Linked DNA regions of Homo sapiens. The protein of the gene in region 7 interacts with the protein of the main gene of each other region in a pairwise test. Each region holds a gene or a part of one and is shown on either strand. Other genes may lie near its edges. The genes, in order: GABPB1, THAP3, AKAP8L, HSF2BP, CDR2, CEP57 and PKN1.

Region 1 (3,500 bases), on a different chromosome or scaffold from region 7:
TACCTCTGGGGCTGGGGGAGGGGCTTGTGATCAGGGAGTGGCATGTGGGAAGATTTTTTTTTTTTTTTTTTTGAGACAGAGTTTCGCTCTGTTGCCCAGGCTGGAGTGCAGTGGCATGATCTTGGCTCACTGAAGCCTCTGCCTCCCGGGTTCAAGTGATTCTCCTGCCTCAGGCACCGAAGTAGCTGGGATAACAGGCGCCCACCCTCACACCCAGCTAATTTTTTATTTTTAGTAGATGAGGTTTCACCATGTTGGCCAGGCTGGTCTCGAACTCCTGACCTCAGGCAATCCACCTGCCTTGGCCACCCAAAGTGTTGGGATTACAGGCGTGAGCCACTGCGCCTGGCCAGATTTTAAATTACTGGCAGTGTTTTATTTCTAGACTATGGTGTTGATTCACAGGTGTTTGCCTTAAACTACATATATTGGCTGAGCACAGTGGCTTACGCTTGTAATCCCAGCACTTTGGGAGACTGAGGTGGCAGATTATTTGAGGCCAGAAGTTCAAGACCAGCATGGGCAACATAGACCCCATCTCAAACAAAAAGAAAAAAATTAGTCAGGCATGGTGGCTCAGCCTGTAGTCCTAGCTACTCTGGAGGCTGAGATGGGAGGATTGCTTGAGCCTAGGAGTTAGAGGTTACAGTGAGCTACGATAGCTCCACTGCATTCTAGCCTGGGCGACAGAGCAAGAAGCTGACTCTAAAAAAATGAATAAAAAAAAACCCAAAAAGCTACAAAAACTACATGGCCAGGTGTGGTGGCTCATATCCATAATCCCAGCACTTCGGGAGGCTGAGGGAGGAGGATCGCTTGAGCTCAGAAGTTTGAAGGTACAGTGAGCTGTGATCACCCCATTGGACTCCAGCCTGAGTGACAGAGTGAGACCCTGTCTCAGAAAAAAACAAAAAACCCTGCATATATGTATATATATTTTGTGTCAATAACCAAGAAGGGAAAGTCTCAGAAGACAAAAATAAAAAAGTAGATCCTAATGTCAAACTGAGCAAAGCTCCTGGTTGCTAAATGGGCTGTTGAGATATTTTCATTAAATACTGAAATTTAAGAGTATAGAAAAGGCTAGTTAAAGAAAAATTGACAAAGCATGGAGAAAGAAAGGATTGTTTAAGGATCTTCTTTGATCTGCTGGGATGACCTTCTCTTAAAAATGTAAGGTTTAGCTGGGTTTGTTGGTGTGTGCCTGTAGTCCCAGCTACTCTGGAGGCTGAGGTGGACAGATTGCTTGAGCCCAGCAGTTCAAAGCTGTAGTGTGTGATAATTGTACCTATGAATATCCATTGCACCCCAGCCTGGGCAACACAGTGAGGCCCTGTCTCTAATTAAACAAACAACAATTAAACAAACAAACAAACAAAAAATATATCTATCTCTCTATCTATAGATAGATAGATAGAGAGATAGGACTAAGGACCTTTATACATATATCTCACTTAATCTCTTCATAACATAATAAACTGTTTATATGTGTAAATTTCCTTAGTCCAAATATCTTAGTTCTTTGGAATATCAAGTGATGTGGTAATCAGAGGGTTATAGGGATTTTCTGTGCCTTTAAATGCATGTGATAGAACTTAATCTTCCTTCCCTCACATTTTAGTACTCCCTCTGTGTATTGTGGATGTCAATTTAATGACTAGACCACATGGAACCAATTTCAGGAGAATTGGGCTCTGTTTTGGTTTTGTCCTGATTCAACTTTGGCAAATGCACCTAAGATTTTTCCTTTGAAAAAAATCCCTTTAAAAAGATCACTGAGATGTTTCAATACGTGAATTTTTTAAGACCTACAAAACAATTTTGATCCACTTAAAGTAAAAATGTACACTGTTACATTTATTTGAGATGAATTTTACAGACGAAGTTAACTTAGCAAGTTTTGTGTGATTGGTATGAGGAATACATTCTAATACACAGAAAAATTTCTCAAACTCTATCTCTGATTTCTTTTTTTTTTTTTTTTCTTTAGACCAAAATCTCGCTGTGTCACCCAGGCTGGAGTGCAGTGGCGCGATCTCGGCTCACTGCAACCTCTGCCTCCTGGGTTCAAGCGATTCTCCTGCCTTAGCCTCCTGAGTAGCTGGGATTACAGGCACATGCCACCACGCCTGGCTAATTTCTGTATTTTTAGTAGAGATGGGGTTTCACCATGTTGGCCAGGGTGGTCTTGAATTCCTGACCTCAAGTGATCCACCCGCCTTGGCTTCCCAAAGTGCTGGGATTACAGGCGTGAGCCACCACGTTCGGCCTCTATATCTTAATTTCTAATGAAATTAATTTTGTTCAGGCAGTTTATCTGATAAAAAATAATGAAGAAAGAAAGTTTGAATTAAAGGAAATACTGGATTTTCTTCTTCATTGAGAGTGTTTGGGAATTCTTCAAGATGTCTATGAAGAGGATGTGATAAGCATGAATCTAGGCATTTCTTTTGAGTTTTGAGTTGCTATGTAAACAGATAATGTAAAGAAAATCTGTTTACTATATAAACAGAAGTGTAGTAACAATAATGTAAATGTGGATTTTTTTTTTTTTCTGTGGTACAGCTGGGAACTTCTCCACTTCATCTAGCAGCACAGTATGGTCATTATTCCACCACAGAGGTACTGCTGCGAGCTGGTGTGAGCAGAGATGCCAGAACCAAAGTGGACCGAACACCATTACATATGGCAGCTTCTGAGGGCCATGCCAGCATAGTAGAGGTTTTACTTAAGGTATGTGTTCTCTTTTTGCACTTTGCTTTTAAAATACTTTACGGTTTTATAAGAAGGAGAGGGAACTAGTTTTTGTTAAATGCCTACTTAGTATTTTATCTATAGTATTTCATTTTTTGTGTGTATAAGCCCATTAAATGAAAATTGTCTTATAGCTTTCATTTCATGAGGGACAAAACTTCATTTAGGTATATTCTTAGTTAAATCAGCTAATTGATTTCTTGGACCTTGGTCTATCTTATGATGAGGGACTACAGCATTTTTTCTTTTTGTTTTTTTTTTTTTTTTGAGACAGAATCTCTGTCACCCAGGCTGCAGTGCAGTGGCACGATCTCAGCTCACTGCAACCTCCACCTCCTGGGTTCAAGTGATTCTCCTGCCTCAGCCTCCCGAGTAGCTGGGACTACAGGCGCCCACCACCATGCCCAGCTAATTTTTGTATTTTTAGTAGAGATGGGGTTTCACCATATTGGCTTGACTGGTCTCGAACTCCTGACCTTGTGATCCGCCTGCCTTGGGCTCCCAAAGTGCTGGGATTACAGGTGTGAGCCACCATGTCCGGCCCTTAATTTTTTGTATTGTAGAGATGGGGTTTTGCCATATTGCCCAGGCTAGTTTCAAACCCCTGAGCTCAGCTGATCCAACCGCCTCGGCCTCCCAAAGTGCTGGGATTACAGGCGTGAGCCACTGCACCTGGCCTGGAACATCTATTTAACATATACATATAAATAATTGACTACATTATTTGTTCTTGCTTTAAAGCACAG
Region 2 (3,097 bases), on a different chromosome or scaffold from region 7:
TCTCACCTCTGTCTAGAGCCTCCAGGGACTCCCCAGCTGCTCAGGGCCCTGCGTCATGCAGTCCCCACTCCCTCTCGCTGTCTCAGCTGGACCTGCGTGAGTGGCCGTTCCTGCTGTCCCTTCTGAAGCCTGCGTCGCTTGTGCTGCCACTTCCTGCGGTCTGTGCTCAAACATCACCCCTTCAGCTGCCTCTCCTCACCACCCCAGGGCTTCCCTCTGTCTGTTCTCTGGAGCAGCTGTCATCCCCAGAAGACACCGTCCACATCTGTGTGGCTCATCACTGTGCCCCCGCTCCAGAATATCAGCTCTTGGGGGCCAGGACTGTCTCATTACCCCCCATCCCTAGCACGAAGAACAGGGCCCGGCTCCTGGTAGGCTCCTGGCAAATGTAGCATCGGAAGCAGCTCACTTGGGCTCTCTGGCCATGCTCGTGGTCTCGGGTTTCCTATTAAGAGTGCTTTAACAGCTGTGACAGAAGCTTCCAGAAATTAGATGTGATTTAATAAACCGAGAGGACTGAATGTCCACAGCTGTCCAGGGAAGTACTCTGTAGTGATGTGAAAATTCCGAATGACTCTGAGGCGCTGGGTCCAGCCTTGCTGGGCCTCACACCCCGTGCCTCTGCCCTTAGGTTTCCGTTCAGCCGCCCGGAGCTGCTGAAGGAATGGGTGCTGAACATCGGCCGGGGCAACTTCAAGCCCAAGCAGCACACGGTCATCTGCTCCGAGCACTTCCGGCCAGAGTGCTTCAGCGCCTTTGGAAACCGCAAGAACCTAAAGCACAATGCCGTGCCCACGGTGTTCGCCTTTCAGGACCCCACACAGGTAGGAGGGCACTGCACCTTCCGTCTGGTCACATCCAGCCTGCGTTGTTTACCAGCAGCTGGGGGCAGTGGGGGTGGCGGCATGTGTGGGAAAAGCCAAGGCCAAGAACTCCAGTGACAACAGCACTGTCACGCCTCTGGGGTCCACAGCCCTGTGGCCCTGCTGGCCATGACCTCGGCTTTAAGAGAAGTCATAAATTAAAGGCATTTTAAAAATGAATTATTCTATGGCTGGGTGCGGTGGCTCACGTCTGTAATCCCAGCACTTTGGGAGGCAGAGGTGGGTGGATCACCTGAGGTCAGGAATTCGATACCAGCCCAGCCAACATGTTGAAACCCCATTTCTACTAAAAATACAAAAATCAGCTGGGTGTGTTGGTGGGCACCTGTAATCCCAGCTACTTGGGAGGCTGAAGCAGGAGAATCTCTTGAACCGGGAGGCAGAGGTTGCAGTGAGCCAAGCTTGCCTTGGTGGAGGTGGGATGTGTGGGCCTGGCTCAGGAGAGGGCTCACAAAGAGTTGGATGCTGAAGCCTTGAGATCGCATGATAGGCCACAGGGGCACCCACGTGGAGTGGGCAGGCAGGGCAGTGGCGGGACAAGCCACAGGCCAGCAGCTCCCTGCATTGGTGGATTTATGGGGAGAGGAAAGGGATCCGTGAGTGGAGAGTGGAGCCGATGGGAAGAACAAAGCGGCCACGTAGCAAACACGCCCAGAGCGGCCGCCTGGGAGCCCCTGCCCCATCTGTCCTCCCCAGCACCCTTCCCAGATAGCCTCATGCAGTCTGCCTGAACCTCTTCAGGTTGGCAGTCCCTTCCTTCAGGAAGCCCTTCTGGACCCTCAAACCCCCTCTTGCCTCCGACCCCTTCCTGCCCCTCAGTCTTCCTGGCCCCTGTGGCCCCTGCTGTCCTTCCTGTTTCCCTCATTGGTTTTGTCTTCTCCCCTGGAACAGAATCTCCATGAGGGCAGGGGCTGCCTTCCCTGCTTCAGGCCCCACACCCAGGACGCTGCCTGGCACAGCCCAGGTGCTCGGGGTATGTGTCCATAGATGAACACTTTAATCACCTTCACGTATTTGTGATAACGTTTGTCCTGGAAAGATGACACTTGAGCCACTGGGAGTGGGGACGTTTGTCACTGTAGCCCTCGGTGCTTCCAGTGCCTGGTTGGTGGGGAGAAGCTGGGTACGGCCTCTGCCAGCTCTGCTTTGTGGGCCCCACCCCAGTGTGGCCCAGGGGCTGCAGGTTCTGGGTCAGTGGCACCTCGAGTGGTGAGCTGCGCTTCTGCTGCTTGCTGGCGGTCATGGGGCCAGGTGCCAGGCCCTGGGGTGACACATAGGAAGTAGATGGGTCCCTAGCTCTACAGGGACCTATTCAGGGCACTCTGACCATGATTTGAGGACATCTTTGGAGAAAGAGAAGCGCACCAAGCGGGCAGTGTGAGTTGGGCTGAGCTTCAGGTCAGTTTCATTTAGCAGCTGTTCGTTGACTGGGGCATGCAGTGGGCCGAGCAGCGGGGACAAGCATGATGCCCGAGGCCTGCCCCGAGCTCTGAGGGTTCTTGGGGTCTGCATCCACTCTGTGTGTGTCTCTTGTAGCAGGTGAGGGAGAACACAGACCCTGCCAGTGAGAGAGGAAATGCCAGCTCTTCTCAGAAAGAAAAGGTGAGTGCACCGGGCCAGGTACTTGAATGTTTAAATTATGCTGTGGGTTGAGACAGGGAGGTGGGATTTTCCCAGCAAGGCCGGCCCGCAGGGCTGTCGCCTTTCCTCATATGCCAGTTTGGATTCCCGGTTTTTCTGGAGGGAAGGCCCAAGCCTCTCAGCTTCCTTCTTTTCAATATCAAAGAATCTCAGTTGCTAGTAGGGATCGTGCCTGATTCCCTTTTTCTTTTCTTTTTTTTGAGACTGAGTCTCGCTCTGTCACCCAGTCTGGAGTGCAGTGGCATGATCTCGGCGCACTGCAACCTCTTCCAGGTTCAAGTGATTCTCTTGCCTCAGCCTCCCGAGTAGCTGGGATTACAGATGCCCGCTACCACGCCCGGCTAATTTTTGTGTTTTGAAATAGAGACGGGGTTTTACCACGTTGGCCAGGCTGGTCTCGAACTCCTGACCTCAGGTGATCCACCCACCTCTGCCTCACAAAGTGCTGGGATTATAGGTGTGAGCCACCGCGCCTGGGCCCCCACTTTTTTTTTTTTGTAGAGATAGCATCTTGCTATTTTACTCAGGCTGGTCTCAAACTACCGGGCTCAAGCCATCCTCCCACCTCAGTC
Region 3 (3,500 bases), 930 kb from region 7:
TTTTCCCCTCCCCTCCCCGCCCCCTCTCCCAGACAAGAGTCTTGCTCTGTTGCCCAGGCTGGAATGCAGTGGCGCGATCTTGGCTTGCTGCAACCTCCACCTCTCAGGTTCAAGCAATTCTCCTGCCTCAGCCTCCCGAGTAGCTGGGATTACAGGCATGTGCTACCACGCCCGGCTAATTTTTGTATTGTTAGTAGAGACGGGGTTTCACCATGTTGGCCAGGCTGGTCTCGAACTCTTGATCTTATGAGCCACCCACCTCAGCCTCACAAGGTGCTGGGATTACAGGCGTCAGCCACTATGCCAGGCCCAAGAGGGATGGTTTTTGAGGTGGTTGTTTGAGATTTATTCTGAACCCAGGGAGTCTGTTCTTAGCTATTTCACTGGTCCTTGTCCTCTTTGGTAACCTAGTTAGCCTATGGGTTAGCTAATATCACTGTCAAATCTACCGGTCCTTCTTTTTTATGGCTGTGTGGTGGGGGAAAAAAAAAAGGACAAAGCTATCAGTGTTTAACTCCAATAAATATTCAGAAAGAAAAAAAAAAGCTATCAATGTCCTTTTAATTTTTTTCCTCCCTAGTCTCCATTGTTTTTGAGAGAGGCCCTAGTCTTGCACTTCCCAACACTCTTGCCAGTGAAGTCAGTCAGTTCCTTTGAGATTGGGAGTTTACTGATTTAAGGCCGTGCTCTCACTGTGGGCAGAATCTCTGAGCCAAGGCTCTGGGGATGGAGACAATGGAGTACCTCTCTCTGAGTGACTCTGCCACTTTAGGAGAGACATGGGAGGAGGTACAGTAGGCTGTAGCCTCCGGTCTTGGTTTGCCTTTCCTGGCATGGGACCTCTGCTTTATGAACAAGCCATGGGTATGTGAGCCCTTATATTCTTAGTGTGCCATGCCCAGGGTCAAGCCTCCATTCCACGTGCGTGTGGCTGGGTAGAAGATAGGAACCGTTCTCTCTCAGCTATGCTTGTCTAGAACTTAGCCTCATCAGCAGGTAGCTGGGGGCGGGATGAGAGATACTGACATCCGGCTGGGTACAGTGGCTCACGCCTGTAATCCCAGCACTTTGGGAGGCCAAGGTGGGCAGATCACCTGAGGTCAGGAGTTCAAGACCAGCCTGGACAACATCGTGAAACCCCATCTTTACTAAAAATACAAAAATTAGCCGGGCTTGGTGGCGGGCACTTGTAATCCCAGCTACTCGGAAGGCTGAGGCAGGAGAATTGTTTGAACCCGGGAAGTAGAGGTTGCAGTGAGCCGATATCACGCCATTGCACTCCAGCCTGGGCAACCAAGAGTGAAACTCCAACTCAGAAAAATAGATGCTGACATTCTGTTCCTCCTGGGAAGATATCATACCCCTTAACTGAGATGATCTGGGTAGATGCGGGCAGACCTGTCTTCTTGGCTGTACTGTCTGGAGTGGAGTTTCCATCACACTAAGCTGGGGGAGGCAGGGATGCAATAGGTTGTGTTTCAGACATCACAACTCTTCATGGAACTGAGTTTTAGTAGCTTTTCCTCATTAAATCTTTCTCATAGGGCTGTATGTCCTTAGGAACATTTTCAGAGACTTTAAATGGTTGTTTTTTAATACTTTTCATCAGTTTCACTAGGGAGTGTTCCAGGGAACGCCTCAGACTGCTATGCTAGAGTCTGTCCTCTCAATATTTAGGAAGCTTCTTAAACCTTAATTCCAAAATTCTGATAAAGATGATACCAAAATGAAACTGTAGATTAGTTTACTATTATTAAAGATATGAAAGTGGGCTGGATTGGCCGGGCGCGGTGGCTCATGCCTGTAATCCCAGCACTTTGGGAGGCCGAGGCAGGCGGATCACGAGGTCAGGAGATCAAGACCATCCTGGCTAACACGGTGAAACCCCATCTCTACTAAAAATACAAAAAATTAGCCGGGCGTAGTGACGGGCGCCTGTAGTCCCAGCTACTCGAGAGGCTGAGGCAGGAGAATGGTGTGAACCCAGGAGGCGGAGGTTGCAGTGAGCCGAGATCGCGCCACTGCACTCCAGCCTGGGCAACAGAGTGAGACTCCTCAAAAAAAAAAAAAGAAAAAAAAGAAAGAAAGTTGGCTGGATATAGTGGCTTATACCTGTAATCCCAGCACTTGGGGAGACTGAGGTGGGAGGATCATTTGAGCCCAGGAGTTCAAGACCAGCCTGGGCAATATAGTGAGACACTGTGTCTATAAAATTAAAAATAAAAAAATTAGCCAGGTACTGGGGCCTGTGGTCCCAGCTACTTGGGAGGCTGAGGTGGGAGGATCACCTGAGCCCAGGAGGTTGAGGCTGCAATGAGCTGTGATCGTGCCACTGCATTCCAGCCGGGGCAACAGAGCAAGACTCTGTCTCAAAAAAATAAATAAAATGAAGTGCTAAATAAAATATTAGTAACTATCAATCTAGTAGTGATCCCTATGTATGATACATTATAAGTAAGGTTTGTTTCTGGAATGGAGGGATGGTTCCCTAAGAAATCTAGCAACAGTTGCCGGGCGCGGTGGCTCATGCCTGTAATCCCAGCACTTTGGGAGGCCGAGGTGGGTGGATCACGAGGTCAGGAGATCGAGACCATCCTGGCTAACACGGTGAAACCCCATCTCTACTAAAAATACAAAAAATTAGCCAGACGTGGTGGCGGGCGCCTGTAGTCCCAGCTACTCGGGAGGCTGAGGCAAGAGAATGGCATGAAAGGCCGGGCGCGGTGGCTCACGCCTGTAGTCCCAGCACTTTGGGAGGCCGAGGCGGGCGGATCACGAGGTCAGGAGATCGAGACCATCCCGGCTAAAACGGTGAAACCCCGTCTCTACTAAAAACACAAAAAATTAGCCGGGCGTGGTGGTGGGCGCCTGTAGTCCCAGCTACTTGGGAGGCTGAGGCAGGAGAATGGCGTGAACTCGGGAGGCGGAGCTTGCAGTGAGCCGAGATCCCGCCACTGCACTCCAGCCTGGGCAACAGAGCGAGACTCCGTCTCAAAAAAAAAAAAAAAGAGAATGGCATGAACCTGGGAGGCGGAGCTCGCAGTGAGCTGATATCGCGCCACTGCACTCCAGCCTGGGCGACAAAGCGAGACTCCGTCTCAAAAACAAAAACAAAAAATCTAGCAATATTATTGGTATAATGCAAACTCTCTTTATGTGCAAATAATGTGATTATGCTCTTAGAAAAGCTGAATGATCCCAGCAAAATGTTCTTAGAATTAATAGAATTTGGTAAGGGGATGGGATTCAAAATAGCGTACAAAAAGTCGTAGTGTTTCTCTATTCTAGTATTAACCAGTTAGAAATTTAAATGGAAAAAAAACTACTTAAAATAACCACACAATGTATGAAATAGCTAAGAATACAGATTTAAGAAGAAAGACTTGAGGGCCAGGCATGGTGGCTCATGCCTGTAATCCCAGCACTTTGGGGAGGCTGAGGCGGGTGGATTGCCTGAGGTCAGGAGTTTGAGACCAGCCTGGCCAACATAATGAAACCCT
Region 4 (3,500 bases), on a different chromosome or scaffold from region 7:
TCTGTTTCACTCTTTCGGCGCTTGCTAATCACACTGCACATTACTTGATATTTCAGTAACTCTTGTGGTTGTCAGTGATTCTTTCTGAGCTGTCATTTTTGTTGATAATTTTTTTTTTTTTTTTTTGAGACAGGGCTTTGCTCTGTCACCCAGGCTGGAGTGCAGTGTCATGATCATGGCTCACTGCAGCCTCTACCTCCTAGGCTCAAGCAATCCTTCTGCCTCTACCTCCTGAATAGCTAGGACTACAGGTGCACACACCGTGCCCGGCTAATTTTTAAATTTTTTGTAGAGATAGGGTCTTGCTGTGTTGCCCAGGCTGGTCTTGAACTTGTGGCCTCAAGCAGTCCTCCCACCTCAGTCTCTCAAAATGTTGGGATTACAGGTGTGAACAACCATGCCTAGCAATTTCATTTATAAATGCCTCATTTTCAGCTGTGTTTTCATTAGGTCTTTTAGGAGAAAATACTCTGTTCTGCACAAAATTGTCTAGGTTCTGAGTCATAATGATCTTGATGTTTTGTTTCATTTTCTGTTGCAGATGTTGCTGCTATAGCATGTGGTCGTGAATTCTTGGTTAATTCAAGCCGGGTGCTCTTGGACACCATATTGCAGCTTCTGGGAGACTTGAAGCCAGGACAGTGTACCAAACTCAAAGTGTATGGTGGATAATGTTAAAAAGTTAATTCTATTTACATATTAATTAGACTGTGCTGATTGGGCCTCTCTTCAAGTAAACACAGTTAATTTTGGTGGTAGTTTTAAAAACTAGAAGAAATAAATTCCTGGAGAAGTTAAGGGCGTGCACTGTCTCTTAAATAGCATTTTAGAAAATAAATTTAAGGAAGGAATGTTCTCACCTTAGAGCAATCAGTGAGTCCCAGTATTATCACATGGTACTTCATGGGTATGTCAAAATGAATTTAAATAGGTATCTGTCTTCCAGCTACTAAAATCTGTATTTGTTTTCTATTTTTATGTAACAAATTATCACCAACTTGGTGGCTAAAACAACACCATTTATTATTTCATAGTTTGGCAAGTCAGAAGTCTGAGTGGGTTTGAGAGGTTCTCTGCATAGGTCAAAAGTGAGGTGTTTTCCAGGGTGGGATCTTTTCAGAGAATCTAGGGGAGGAATCTGCTTCTGGGCACTTTGAAGTGGCTGGTAGAGTCCAGTGTCTTGGTTTCTAGGAGCGAGTTCCCTGTTTCCCAGCTGGCTGGTCAGCTGTGGGTCAGCTGCTGAGGCAGCTTGCATTGCTTCTCACAGGGACCCCATCTTCAAGCCACAGTCGCTCATTGAATCCTTCCCACGTTTCCAGTCTCTGAGACTTCCTCTTCTGCTACCAGCAAGATGAAACTCTCTCTGCTTTTATTCTTTTGTTAAAAAGTTTACTTCAAGAAGGCAAAAACTCTGCTTCTTATAGATTTGTGTGTTTAGATGAGGCATACCTGGATAAACTCCTTTTGATTAACTCTTGAGTCAGCTGGTTAGTAACCTTAATTACATCTACAGAATCCTCTTTTCCAGGCAATGACATAATCAGCGTGTGATAATTTATAGTCCCAGAGATTAGGGCAGGAAATCTTGGGGAGAGGGGCAGTGTAGGATTCTGCCACTCACACTGTTCGTTCTGAGTGTTGCCTTTGACTTCTTAGAGCATCTTTATTTTTTAATTATTTTTTTAAAGAGACCGAGTCTCTACAGACCTTGCCTAGGCTGGCCTCAAACTCCTAGGCGTTCAAATAATCCTTCCACCTCAGCCTCCTGAGTAGCTGGGACTACAGGCATGTGCCACCATCCCCTGCTGTGGAGCACTTTTTTTTTTTTTTTTTTTTTTGAGACGGAGTCTTGCTCTGTCACCCGGGCTGGAGTGCAGTGGCGTGATCTCGGCTCACTGCAAGCTCCGCCTCCCGGGTTCACACCATTCTCCTGCCTCAGCCTTCCAAGTAGCTGGGACTACAGGCGCCCGCCACCACGCCCAGCTAATTTTTTGTATTTTTAGTAGAGACGGGGTTTCACCGTGTTAGCCAGGATGGTCTCAATCTCCTGACCTCGTGATCCACCCGCCTTGGCCTCCCAAAGTGCTGGGATTACAGGCGTGAGCCCCTGCGCCCGGCCTAGCACTTTTAAAAAGTAAGAGCTTCTGTAAAGTCTGTGCCAGGTGCTTCCAACACCTGTGTCATCCTGGCCTCGGTGTCTCTTGATTGTTTTTTCCCATGAGAGTTGAGATTTTCCTGTTTCTTCATATGCCAAGTAATTTTGGATTTATCCTGGACATTTACGTGATCACTGGTCTTGTTTAAATCCTTGGGAAATGCTGGTGTTTATATTTTCACAGGCAGTCAACCCCTTTGGGTCAGATTCCAGCCAGCCTTTTCTCTGTTTGGTTTCAGTGTGTCGTCCTGTTTTCAGAGTCTTTACAGTGCTATTGGAACTGCCCCTCGTGAGTGCCGCCCAGTGGCCAGTCTGAGACCTGGGTGGTCTGGATCTTAGGTTCAGAGTCTTTCAGATACTGTTTATGATCAGATCCACACAGGCACAACTTGGGATGAGGCCAGGAATTTATAAACAACTTTTTGGGGTCACTTTTCTGAGCTGTTAACTCTCTGGGTACACTTTAGTTACCTGGGACTGCCTTTTTCAGTCCCCCACCTGGAATGCTGGGGCTTCATATACCCTGCTGTGTCCAAGTGCCTGCAACTCTGCCCTCATCCCGCCCTGCGGCAGGAGTTGAGAAGCTCTTAGAGCTTTCAGGTGTAAGGAAAAAATTCCTTTCCCCCAGAGTTTGAGTTACCTGGGGGATGTCCCCACTGCTACCGTGCTTGGTTGCTGGCAGGAGACCCCTTTCCCACTCCTTGAGCCTCACTAGAGACCTTCTCCTGGTGCTCTCTGTGTGGCTCAGGGCTACTTTTGGGTTTTGGAGCTCCCTCGAGTCCAGGCCAGGGACACTAAAGGAAAAAGTGGTAAACTCTCTGCTGGTTTAGTGGTTCTTAAAATTTTGATCTTCTTCCCCTATCTGCCTGCTACTGTTTACTTTTCAGAGTCCTCAAATAGCTGCTTCATGTATTCTCTTTGGAATTTATAGCTGCATTCAGTGGAAGCGAGACTGGAGGGTGTGTTCAGGCCATCTTATCCAGAACCAAGCTTTCTAGTCCATTTTAATATTTTGTGCTAACAAATATCTATACATACATAATACATATAATACAGTGTAACATATATGCAAAAAAAATTTTTTTTTTGAGACAGAGTCTTGCTTTGTAACCCAGGCTGGAGCACAGTGGTATGAACATGGCTCACTGCAGCCTCGACCTCTTAGGCTTAAGTTATCCTCCCAGCTCAGCCTTCTGAGCAGCTGGGACCGTCAGTGCATGCCACCATGCCTGGCTAATTGTTAAATTTTAAAAATTTTTTTGTAGAGACGGGGTCTCTCCATGTTGCCCAGGCTGGCATAGATGGTTTTGTTTGGGGGTATAATTTTACAAATTGCTTGTGGATC
Region 5 (3,500 bases), on a different chromosome or scaffold from region 7:
TGGGAGGCCAAGGCAGGTGGATCATCTGAGGACAGGAGTTCGAGACCAGCCTGGCTAACACAGTGAAACCCCATCTCTACCAAAAATACAAAAATTAGCCAGGCGTGGTGGCAGGCGCCTGTAATCCCAGCTACTCGGGAGGCGGTTCTCATTCTCAAAAAAGTTTGTGTTAAAAAATAAAATGCTGCATCTAATTGCAAGTGCTTTTTTACCAGTATGTGATTGGCATAACAGCAACACATCGAAGTGTCAAAAGTGTAACTCTCCTGCCAAGTGAATTACCTCAATTTCCTGTAACTGCTCCTGATTGGTTGTATACATCTGCTGAACAGAGTCCTCCAACTCTGTGTTCCGATCCAGTAATGTCTTCCCAAGCTCAGCAGCAAGTTGAAGATCTAGCACAACAAATGAATCTTAGAATAATACAAATGATCTCACATCAACAATTTATATAACCCAGTCCTTCAAAAAAGAACATGTAGTTTAAGTCACATCCCAATGGAAGGTGGAGTGGCACAGAAGGAAACCCGAGTTCTACTTAAAATTCAGTTAAACTGACGCCTCCAGCAGGTAATGTATTCTCTTATGTACCCATACTTGTAAGAAGTGAAAAATGGTCATCTACTTTATGGAGATGCAGTTATTTGTTCAGGAATGATCATTCCGCAGTGTTACTTCTAAAATCCTATTTGCTAGTACAATGAATGTATTCATATCCTGACAGTCTACTTTTTTGAATGGACCCTTGAGCCAAGGTATAGGTGGAGCTTTCAAAAATCTTTAAAGTTCCCATGAATTTGCCTGCTGTGAATACAACTGTTAAAGTTTATTGTCATATATCCTGGACTCCTAAGGGGACTAAAATTTATTAAGTCAAGAAAAGGAAAAATACATCAGCATTAAGAACACTGCCCCAGGTCACTCTACTTCTCTTCGTGTCCTTCTGTAAGATGAGCAACTAGAAAAGCAAAACAGAAATGTGGTTTTTGAGGTAATTACATGTCAGTAGCTCATACTTCCATTTAGCACAGAACCATATTTTATTTTAAACCTCATTTTTCAACTCTCTCTATTCTTAGGTATAATGCCCATAAAACAGGATTTGTTTATATTATACTCAACTCCCAGAAATGAAAATTTAGTTAACAATATAAGAAAGGACACTAGTTGTAACATACGTCATTGAAATACTTCTTTGCATAGTAAATCTTATGGAGCAGTCCTTTGATACAGTGGGAAATGCACTGCACTCTGGGCAGGTAAGTCTCAGGCCCAGTTCTATCATTTACCAGAACACTTTCAATATGGTGACTTTAAGGCCCCTATAGTTAGTATTCTTGTTTAGAGAGATGACTGTCTTATCAATATAAGATTGTGAAAATCAAATGAAATAATACATAAAGGAGTACTTTACAAACTAAGTTGCAATACGCACGCAAAGTACTATTAATAGTCATTGATTCACAAATGAATGTTTTTGTTGCCAGGCACTATGCTAAGCATTAGCTATAGAACAGTGAATAAAATGAAGTCCTGCTTTGCTGACATTCCCAGATTAGTGGAGGAAGCCAGACAAATGAGTAACTAAACTCACATACTGTGATAAACAGTATTCATGCATGCATGCATATACTCAATAATATCAGACACTATTCTAGGCACTGGGATGGTGCCCAGGAGCCATAAGGAACTCACATTAAAAAAATATCCCTGCCCTCATGGAGCTTATATTCTACTGGGAGAAACAGCACAATAAAACTTGATAGCGATAAATGCTAAAGAGAAAAAAATAAAGCAAGGAAGAAGTACAGGAGGAGTGTGGATGTGGGAGGCTGAAATTTAAGAACATGTGACCAGGGCCACATTAGAATCAATGTGTGAAGGAACAGAATAAGTGACCCATGTGTATCCATCAGGGAAACAGCACTCCAGGCAGAGGCAAGGCAAGTGCAAAGCACCTGGGAGGAAGCATGACTGAGTCATTAAGGAGGCTGAGGAGGGTGGAGCAGAATGTATTGGGCAGGGAGGGGAGGGGGAAGACTCAAATCAGAGGGGCTCCAAGATGGCCAGTTTGCGGAGGGCCTAACTAAAGAGGTCAAGAGTTTGGCCTTTACTCCAAATGAAGGAATCCAATGGAGGTTTAACAGGATCACTCCGGCTGCTGTTATACAGGGTGAATGGGACAAAGGTGGGAGCAGAGTGACAGAAAGATACTGCAATCGTCTGGGTGAGAGATGATGGTGGCTTGGACCAGGGTGGCAGAGATGAAGATGGGAGAGGAGGGGCAGAATTCTGACATGTTTTGAAAGTAAAGCTAAAGGATTTGTTGACCAATTCAATATAAAGTCTAAAAGATAAAGCGGGGGAGAAAAACCTGGATTTGGTGATAATGAACAAAGGGCTTTCTTTTTCTGTCTCTTTATTAGGCACGGTCTCGCTCTGTTGCCATGCTGGAGTGCAGTGGTGCACTCATGGCTGACTGTAGCCTTGGATTCCTGGGCTCAAGTGATCTTCCTGCCTCAGCCTGCCAAACAGCTGGGACTACAGGCATGCACTACCAAACCCAGCTTACTTACTTACTGATTTATTGTAGAGACAGGGTCTTACAATGCTGCCCAGGATGATCTCAAACTTCTGGCCTCAACACATCCTCCCACATCAGCCTCCCAAAATGTTGGGATTACAGGCATGAGCCACTGTGCCCAGCCTAGGGCCCAATTTAGAAAGGGAGGTCATAAGGAAGGTCTGACAAGACCTTTTAGCTGAAGCTTGAAGGATGAAGAACTTGCCATGAATTTGGCATATTCTACAACCTGACAAGCAGCCAGTATGATAGAAGCATGAGGGATCAGATCATATAGGATTTTATAGCCCATGGTAGGTAAAGTTTAAATTTTATTCTAGGTATGATGGAAAGTAGCCTCAGTTATTGTCATAAAAGTATTATGAAAAAAATTTATCATAAAAACAAGGAAACTCACTACATAATGATTTTTAAACTTAATTTTTAGAGGTTGACAAATAAGGCTTAATGGCTATCCACCACTACTCATAGTAAAACTTAGCATTGAGTAAATGGTAACAACAGCATTAGTTGTTGTAATGTCCACTCAAGTGCATAATTAGTATTCTACTTGGTTAGTTTTCACTCTGGAAAAAGCAGCAAAACCTACCACACCCAACTCCAGATCATTTAAAAACATTTTACACCCATTTAAAATAAAACAGTATACTGTTGGTAGATAGGTGCTAAAATACATTCTCTTGTGATTTCAAAACTAACAATGTCTATTAGTCATTACATTCATTAAGACTTTAGAGGCCAGGTGCAGTGGGTCATGCCTATAATCCCAGCATTTTGGGAGGGTGAACCAGATGGACTGCTTGAGCTCAGAAGTTCGAGACCAGCCAGGGCAACATGGTGAAATTACATCTCTACCAAAAATACAGTGAGGCCCTGTCTCAAAAATAAAAAAATAAAAAATAAAGACTTCCATTAA
Region 6 (2,348 bases), on a different chromosome or scaffold from region 7:
ATATGATACTAAAGTCTTACGGGACCACTGTTGTATATGTGGTCTGTTGTTTACTACATCATCATCTGGCACCTGACATCACATTCATTTTAGCTAAACTTAACTGATAAGACATGAGTGTTTGAAGAGCAAGATTCATCTGTAGACTTTACATATACAATACTCTTTTGGGGAAAATAAGAATATAAAGAATTAACCTTGAAATTAAGAACTCTTGCATTTCCCTCTAGTGCCTTTCTTGAACTTTTAAATTCATATTTTTAATTAAAAATTTCTTGATCTAGGCTAGGCATGGTGGCTCACACCTGTAATCCCAGCACTTTGGGAGGCTGAAGTGGGCATATCACATCCTGGCTAACAGGGTGAAAACCTGTCTGTACTAAAAATACAAAAAATTGGCCAGGCATGGTGGCAGGCGCCTGTAGTCCCAGCTACTCGGGAGGCTGAGGCAGGAGAATGGCGTGAACCCGGGAGGCAGAGCTTGCTGTGAGCCGAGATCATGTCACTGCACTCCAGCCTGGGCGACAGAGCAAGACTCCGTCTCAAAAAAAAAAAAAAAATTTATTGCTCTGTTCAAAAAATGGAGTCATTTTTTAAACACATGGAGCAGTAACCCATAATGAGGTATAATAGACCTAACCATGAAACACAGAAAACTTAACCATGTTCTACTTCTGCTTTGTATATAGTGATCACCAGCAGCTTGCAAAACTTATCCAGGAGTCGCCAACCGTTGAACTGAAAGACAAGTTGGAGTGTGAATTGGAGGCATTAGTGGGAAGGATGGAAGCAAAAGCCAACCAAATAACTAAAGTTCGAAAATACCAAGCCCAGGTAACTCAGTTTTCCTTCACTCAAGTTTCTAATGATTAAGAAAAAAAAAACACTTTAATTCAAATATTAAATGATGACACTAAGTGTATCATAGATAAATATCTACAGGAGATACTTCTTTACTGAAGACATTTGTTCATTGAGAATTGGTAAGTGGATTAAGAAAGAAGACACTTTTAGTCACTTAGCATATTCATCTAAGAAACATCTTTCAAATACTGAATATATTTAATATTCTTTATGAATAAGCTTTAACTTCTTTGATGAATTTAAATTGGAGTTTATCCAAGTAAGTTTTTTTAAAAGCACCTGCGAAATTCTGTTTCCAAAGGAATAAGTCATACATTAAATATGTGAAATATATTTATGTTGCTAATCATTTTATATCAGCCAACAATGTAGTACTACCAGATGCAGTGGTGACATCACACTCAAGGGTTTTCAACCAGAGAGAAACATGATTCATATATTTAAGAGATTACTGTAGTGACTAGGGGTAGGGTAATGGGATCAAGGCAGAGAGGCTGAGAGATCAGCTATAGATGTATCAGAGGTGGTCAGCAAGACAGTAGTTGGGTTTGGGCAGAGGTAAACAGATTTGAGGTATGTTTTGGAAGTAAAAAAAATATTGGGGTTACTTGCTGCTGGGTATCATGTAGAAGGAGAGGGAGTTAGGATGGTGATTCCACTGACTAAAATGGAGAAAGCTGAGAAGTTCAGAGAGCAGAACAGTTTTGTTGACTGTTGATTGGTAGCCATATGATAGACACACAGTGCCAAGTGCTCTGAGTATATCTTCTCATTTAATTTTCACAAAAGGCTTCTGAGGTGGGTATATTCTCATATTATAGATGAGGTAGATGCTAAGCCACATTTTCTGGGAAGTATGCATATATCCTCAGTGAAATTAAATAACTTGCCCAAGTACCAGCTTACTGGGAAATGGCAGAGCTGGGATGAAACTAGCCTTTTCAACTCTAAAACTTTGGCTGTTTTTTCAAAGTTCATGTATGAAAAAGAAATACAAGCAAATTATTCCTGTAGGAGTAAGGAGTAATGGTCTAATTTGTTGCTTATACTAATTAGACTTATTCTATTGGAACACCAACATGCCAGCATCAGTTTGGCTAAAGTAAAAATAAAGCTCCCGTATTTAAAATTATTCTAAAAATAATGGAACAAAAATAAAATTCTTTTCATAGTATTAATACATTACCAATTACATCTGTTCATCCATCTGGAAATTGCTTCTTTGCCTCCTCAGACTAGTTTCTAGAATATCTTTCTCCTCTTCTCCCATTTGTGAAAATCCTTCCCATTCTTCTTTTCTCTGTGTCTGATTTTTTGCCTCCTTCATGAGTCTTTCCTTCAACTCCCCTTGTTTCTCACTCGCCCTGTTCTGTACTTTGGCAATATTGCCTTAATTTAGGACAACCAGAATTTGTTTACTCATGTCTACTTGTTTGTGTATTGTTTTATATATATATAAGCATATATTTATTTATATTAATATT
Region 7 (3,500 bases):
CCACGCTCACAGGGAGTCCTGACCTGGGGGCTGTGGAGCTGCGCATCGAAGAGCTGCGGCACCACTTCCGAGTGGAGCACGCGGTGGCCGAGGGTGCCAAGAACGTACTGCGCCTGCTCAGCGCTGCCAAGGCCCCGGACCGCAAGGCAGTCAGCGAGGTGAGGGGCGGAGCTTTCATTAGAGGCGGGGCTTCAGCAAGGGGCGGTGCTTCAGCAAGCGGCGGGGAGTTCACCAGGAACACCCACGGTGAGGGGTGGAGCCTCAAAGGGGGTGGGACCTTCATAAGGGGTGGGGCCTCAGCCAGGGTAGACTACTGTGAGGGGCAGGGCATCAGGCAGGAACAGTGCAACTGTGAGGGGCGGGGCCTCAGCGAGGGGGCATGGTTTCAGGCAGGAATGGCCCTCGGTGAGGGGAGGGGCCTCTCCAAGGGGCGGGGCCTGGTTTTCCCAGAGGTGGGACCAAGTTGGTTTGAGGTTTAGCCCTCTAGGGAGGAGCTCAGTGTGAGACTCAGCCTGGGGGTGGGGCCTAGGCCTGCACTTGGGAAGGGGCAAGCCTGGTCCCGCCCCCAGCCCCCACACTTCCCACCACAGGCCCAGGAGAAATTAACAGAATCCAACCAGAAGCTGGGGCTGCTGCGGGAGGCTCTGGAGCGGAGACTTGGGGAGCTGCCCGCCGACCACCCCAAGGGGCGGCTGCTGCGAGAAGAGCTCGCTGCGGCCTCCTCCGCTGCCTTCAGCACCCGCCTGGCCGGGCCCTTTCCCGCCACGCACTACAGCACCCTGTGCAAGCCCGCGCCGCTCACAGGTGGGTCTGAGACCCTACCCCACCCCTGCAGCCCTGGGCCTCCGACTCCTCTCATTTCCCCATTCCTGTGACCCCCGACTTCAATCTCCGCTCTCCCCAACCCTGGACTCCCATTCCACCACTGTCTCCTCCCCTCCTTTGCCCTCTGATTCTGGGCTCTTGCCCACCCCCCCCACACCTCAGTTTCTCCATCTCTCTTCACCTGGCCCAGTATTTTTCTCCCAGCCCTTGTTCCCCAGCCCCACCTCGGCCTCACAACGCTCAGCCATGAGCCTCCTACCCGCCTGCTGCAGACCAGCCAGCCCCACCTTCCACAGACCCCTCAGCCATCTACCCCTCCAGACCAGCCCCACCGTAGACCCCTAGCCCATCTTAGACCTCAGATTGTCCACCGAGTCCTCCCCTAGAACCCCTAGTCCTACCCTGTTCCTGCTTGCCTGGGCCTACGGCCTGTACCCTGAGCCTACGGCCTGTACCCTGAGCCTCTCTTCTGCCCCTAAACTCCCGCATCTGAGCCCCTCCTGGAAGGACTGCTTCTCTCATATTCTCCTATCCCAGCACGGACATCCCGGCCTCATGCCCCATGCTCCATTCTGGTTGTCCCTCACTGGCTCCCACTTGTACCATGGCTGCGTCTGGATGTGTCCCCTCCCCGCTGTGGTCCCCTCCGCTCAGCCTGCCCCAGAAGTGGCCCCCTGCTGAGCTTTCCCCTCCTGCAGGGACCCTGGAGGTACGAGTGGTGGGCTGCAGAGACCTCCCAGAGACCATCCCGTGGAACCCTACCCCCTCAATGGGGGGACCTGGGACCCCAGACAGCCGCCCCCCCTTCCTGAGCCGCCCAGCCCGGGGCCTTTACAGCCGAAGCGGAAGCCTCAGTGGCCGGAGCAGCCTCAAAGCAGAAGCCGAGAACACCAGTGAGTGGGCATCGTGGGCCCTGAGAAACGAGGTGGCATTGGGGACCTGGAATGCCCCATATTTGTAAACCTTTAAAAAATAAGCCAGGGGTCGGGTGTGGTGGCTCACACATGTAATCCCAGCACTTTGGGAAGCCAAGGTGGACGGATCACTTGAGGTCAGGAATTTGAGACCAGCCTGGCCAACATGGTGAAACACTGTCTCTACTTAAAAATACAACTTAGCTGGGCATGGTGGTGCACACCTGTAATCCCAGCTGTTTGGGAGGCTTAGGCAGGAGAATTACTTGAACCCGGGAGGTGGAAATTGCAGTGAGCCATGATCACGCCATTGCCCTCCAGCCTGGGTGACAGAGTGAGACTTTGCCTCAAAAGAGAACGAAAACAACAACAAAAACAAAAAAACAGGCCAGGTGCAGCAGCTCATGCCTGTAATCCCAGCACTTTGGGAGGCTGAGACAGGAGGATCACTTGAGGCCAGGAGTTTGAGACCAGCCTGGGCAACATAGCAAGACCCTGTCTCTACAAAAAATAAAATGTAAAAATTAGCCAGATGTGGTGGCCCACACCTGTAGTCCTAGCTGTTCTAGAGGTGGGAGGATCACTTGAGCCCAGTGAGCTATCATTGAGCCATTTCACTCTAGCCTAGATGACAGAGAGACCCTGTCTCTAAATTAAAAAAAAAGAAAAAAAACTTCAAGTTTATTTAGATTAAAAAAAAGGCTGGGCGTGGTGGCTCACGCCTGTAATCCCAGCACTTGGGGAGGCCGAGGCGGGTGGATCACGAGGTCAGGAGTTCAAGACCAGCCTGGCCAGCATGGTGAAACCCCATCTCTACAAAAAATACAAAAAAATTAGCCAGGCGTGGCGGCGCGTGCCTGTAATCCCAGCTACTCGGGAGGCTGAGGCAGAGAATTGCTTGAACCCAGGAGGCGGAGGTTGCAGTGAGCCGCGATTGTGCCACCGTACTCCAGCCTGTGCAACAGAGCAAGACTCCATCTCAAAATAATAATAATAATAATAAATAAATAAAACAAATTTAAAAAGAAAGGAAAACCAAACAAGAAACCAATATATCATATTCATTAGGATGACTAATACTATTTTAAAAACCCAACAAAACAAACAGAAAATAAGTGTTGGTGAGGATGTGGAGAGAAATCAGAACCTTTGTGCACTGTTGGTGGGAATGTAAAATGGTGCAGCCCTATGGAAAATATATTGGCATGGCCGGGTGCAGTGGCTCACACCTGTAATCCCAGCACTTTGGGAGGCTGAGGGGGCCAGATCACCTGAGGTCAGGAGTTCGAGACCAGCCTGGCTATCATGGCAAAACCCCGTCTCTACTAAAAATACAAAAATTAGCTGGGCATGGTGGTGTGTGTCTGTAATCCCAGCTACTCAGAAGGCTGAGGCAGGAGAATCGCTTGAACCCAGGAGGCAGAAGTTGCAGTGAGCTTAGATCGAGCCACTGCACTCCAGCCTGGGCAACAGAGCGAGACTCTGTCTGAAAGAAAGAGAGAGAGAGGGAGGGAGGGAGGGAGGAAGGAATATTGGCAGTTCCTGAAACAAGTAAAAACAGAGTAAGCAGTCCAGGCGCAATGGCTCACACCTGTAATTCCACCACTTTGGGAGGTCAAGGTAGGTGGATCACCTGAGGTCAGAAGTTCAAGACCAGCCTGGCCATCATGGTGAAACCCCATTTCTACTAAAAATACAAAAGTTAACCGGGCTTGGTGGTGGTGCACGCCTGTAGTCCCAGCTACTCTGGAGGCTGAGGCA

The links.
Region 1: the proteins of PKN1 (region 7) and GABPB1 interact in binary tests that used the Homo sapiens proteins (3 or more experiments, as listed by UniProt).
Region 2: the proteins of PKN1 (region 7) and THAP3 interact in binary tests that used the Homo sapiens proteins (3 or more experiments, as listed by UniProt).
Region 3: the proteins of PKN1 (region 7) and AKAP8L interact in binary tests that used the Homo sapiens proteins (3 or more experiments, as listed by UniProt).
Region 4: the proteins of PKN1 (region 7) and HSF2BP interact in binary tests that used the Homo sapiens proteins (3 or more experiments, as listed by UniProt).
Region 5: the proteins of PKN1 (region 7) and CDR2 interact in binary tests that used the Homo sapiens proteins (3 or more experiments, as listed by UniProt).
Region 6: the proteins of PKN1 (region 7) and CEP57 interact in binary tests that used the Homo sapiens proteins (3 or more experiments, as listed by UniProt).

Annotation. Positions count from the first base shown.
Region 1 is NC_000015.10:50,303,199-50,306,698, reverse strand, and holds part of GABPB1 (GA-binding protein subunit beta-1 isoform beta 2), read left to right. Parts: intron 1-2,565; coding exon 2,566-2,733; intron 2,734-3,500.
Region 2 is NC_000001.11:6,627,868-6,630,964, forward strand, and holds part of THAP3 (THAP domain-containing protein 3), read left to right. Parts: intron 1-631; coding exon 632-824; intron 825-1,775; coding exon of another isoform or gene 1,776-1,857; intron 1,858-2,420; coding exon 2,421-2,486; intron 2,487-3,097. UniProt on the Homo sapiens protein: Component of a THAP1/THAP3-HCFC1-OGT complex that is required for the regulation of the transcriptional activity of RRM1.
Region 3 is NC_000019.10:15,384,489-15,387,988, reverse strand, and holds part of AKAP8L (A-kinase anchor protein 8-like), read left to right. Parts: intron 1-3,500. UniProt on the Homo sapiens protein: Could play a role in constitutive transport element (CTE)-mediated gene expression by association with DHX9. Increases CTE-dependent nuclear unspliced mRNA export.
Region 4 is NC_000021.9:43,610,989-43,614,488, reverse strand, and holds part of HSF2BP (heat shock factor 2-binding protein), read left to right. Parts: intron 1-541; coding exon 542-659; intron 660-3,500. UniProt on the Homo sapiens protein: Meiotic recombination factor component of recombination bridges involved in meiotic double-strand break repair.
Region 5 is NC_000016.10:22,364,620-22,368,119, forward strand, and holds part of CDR2 (cerebellar degeneration-related protein 2), read right to left. Parts: intron 396-3,500; coding exon 283-395; intron 1-282.
Region 6 is NC_000011.10:95,828,498-95,830,845, forward strand, and holds part of CEP57 (centrosomal protein of 57 kDa), read left to right. Parts: intron 1-689; coding exon 690-834; intron 835-2,348. UniProt on the Homo sapiens protein: Centrosomal protein which may be required for microtubule attachment to centrosomes. May act by forming ring-like structures around microtubules. Mediates nuclear translocation and mitogenic activity of the internalized growth factor FGF2, but that of FGF1.
Region 7 is NC_000019.10:14,450,306-14,453,805, forward strand, and holds part of PKN1 (serine/threonine-protein kinase N1), read left to right. Parts: intron 1-12; coding exon 13-158; intron 159-590; coding exon 591-804; intron 805-1,523; coding exon 1,524-1,718; intron 1,719-3,500. UniProt on the Homo sapiens protein: PKC-related serine/threonine-protein kinase involved in various processes such as regulation of the intermediate filaments of the actin cytoskeleton, cell migration, tumor cell invasion and transcription regulation.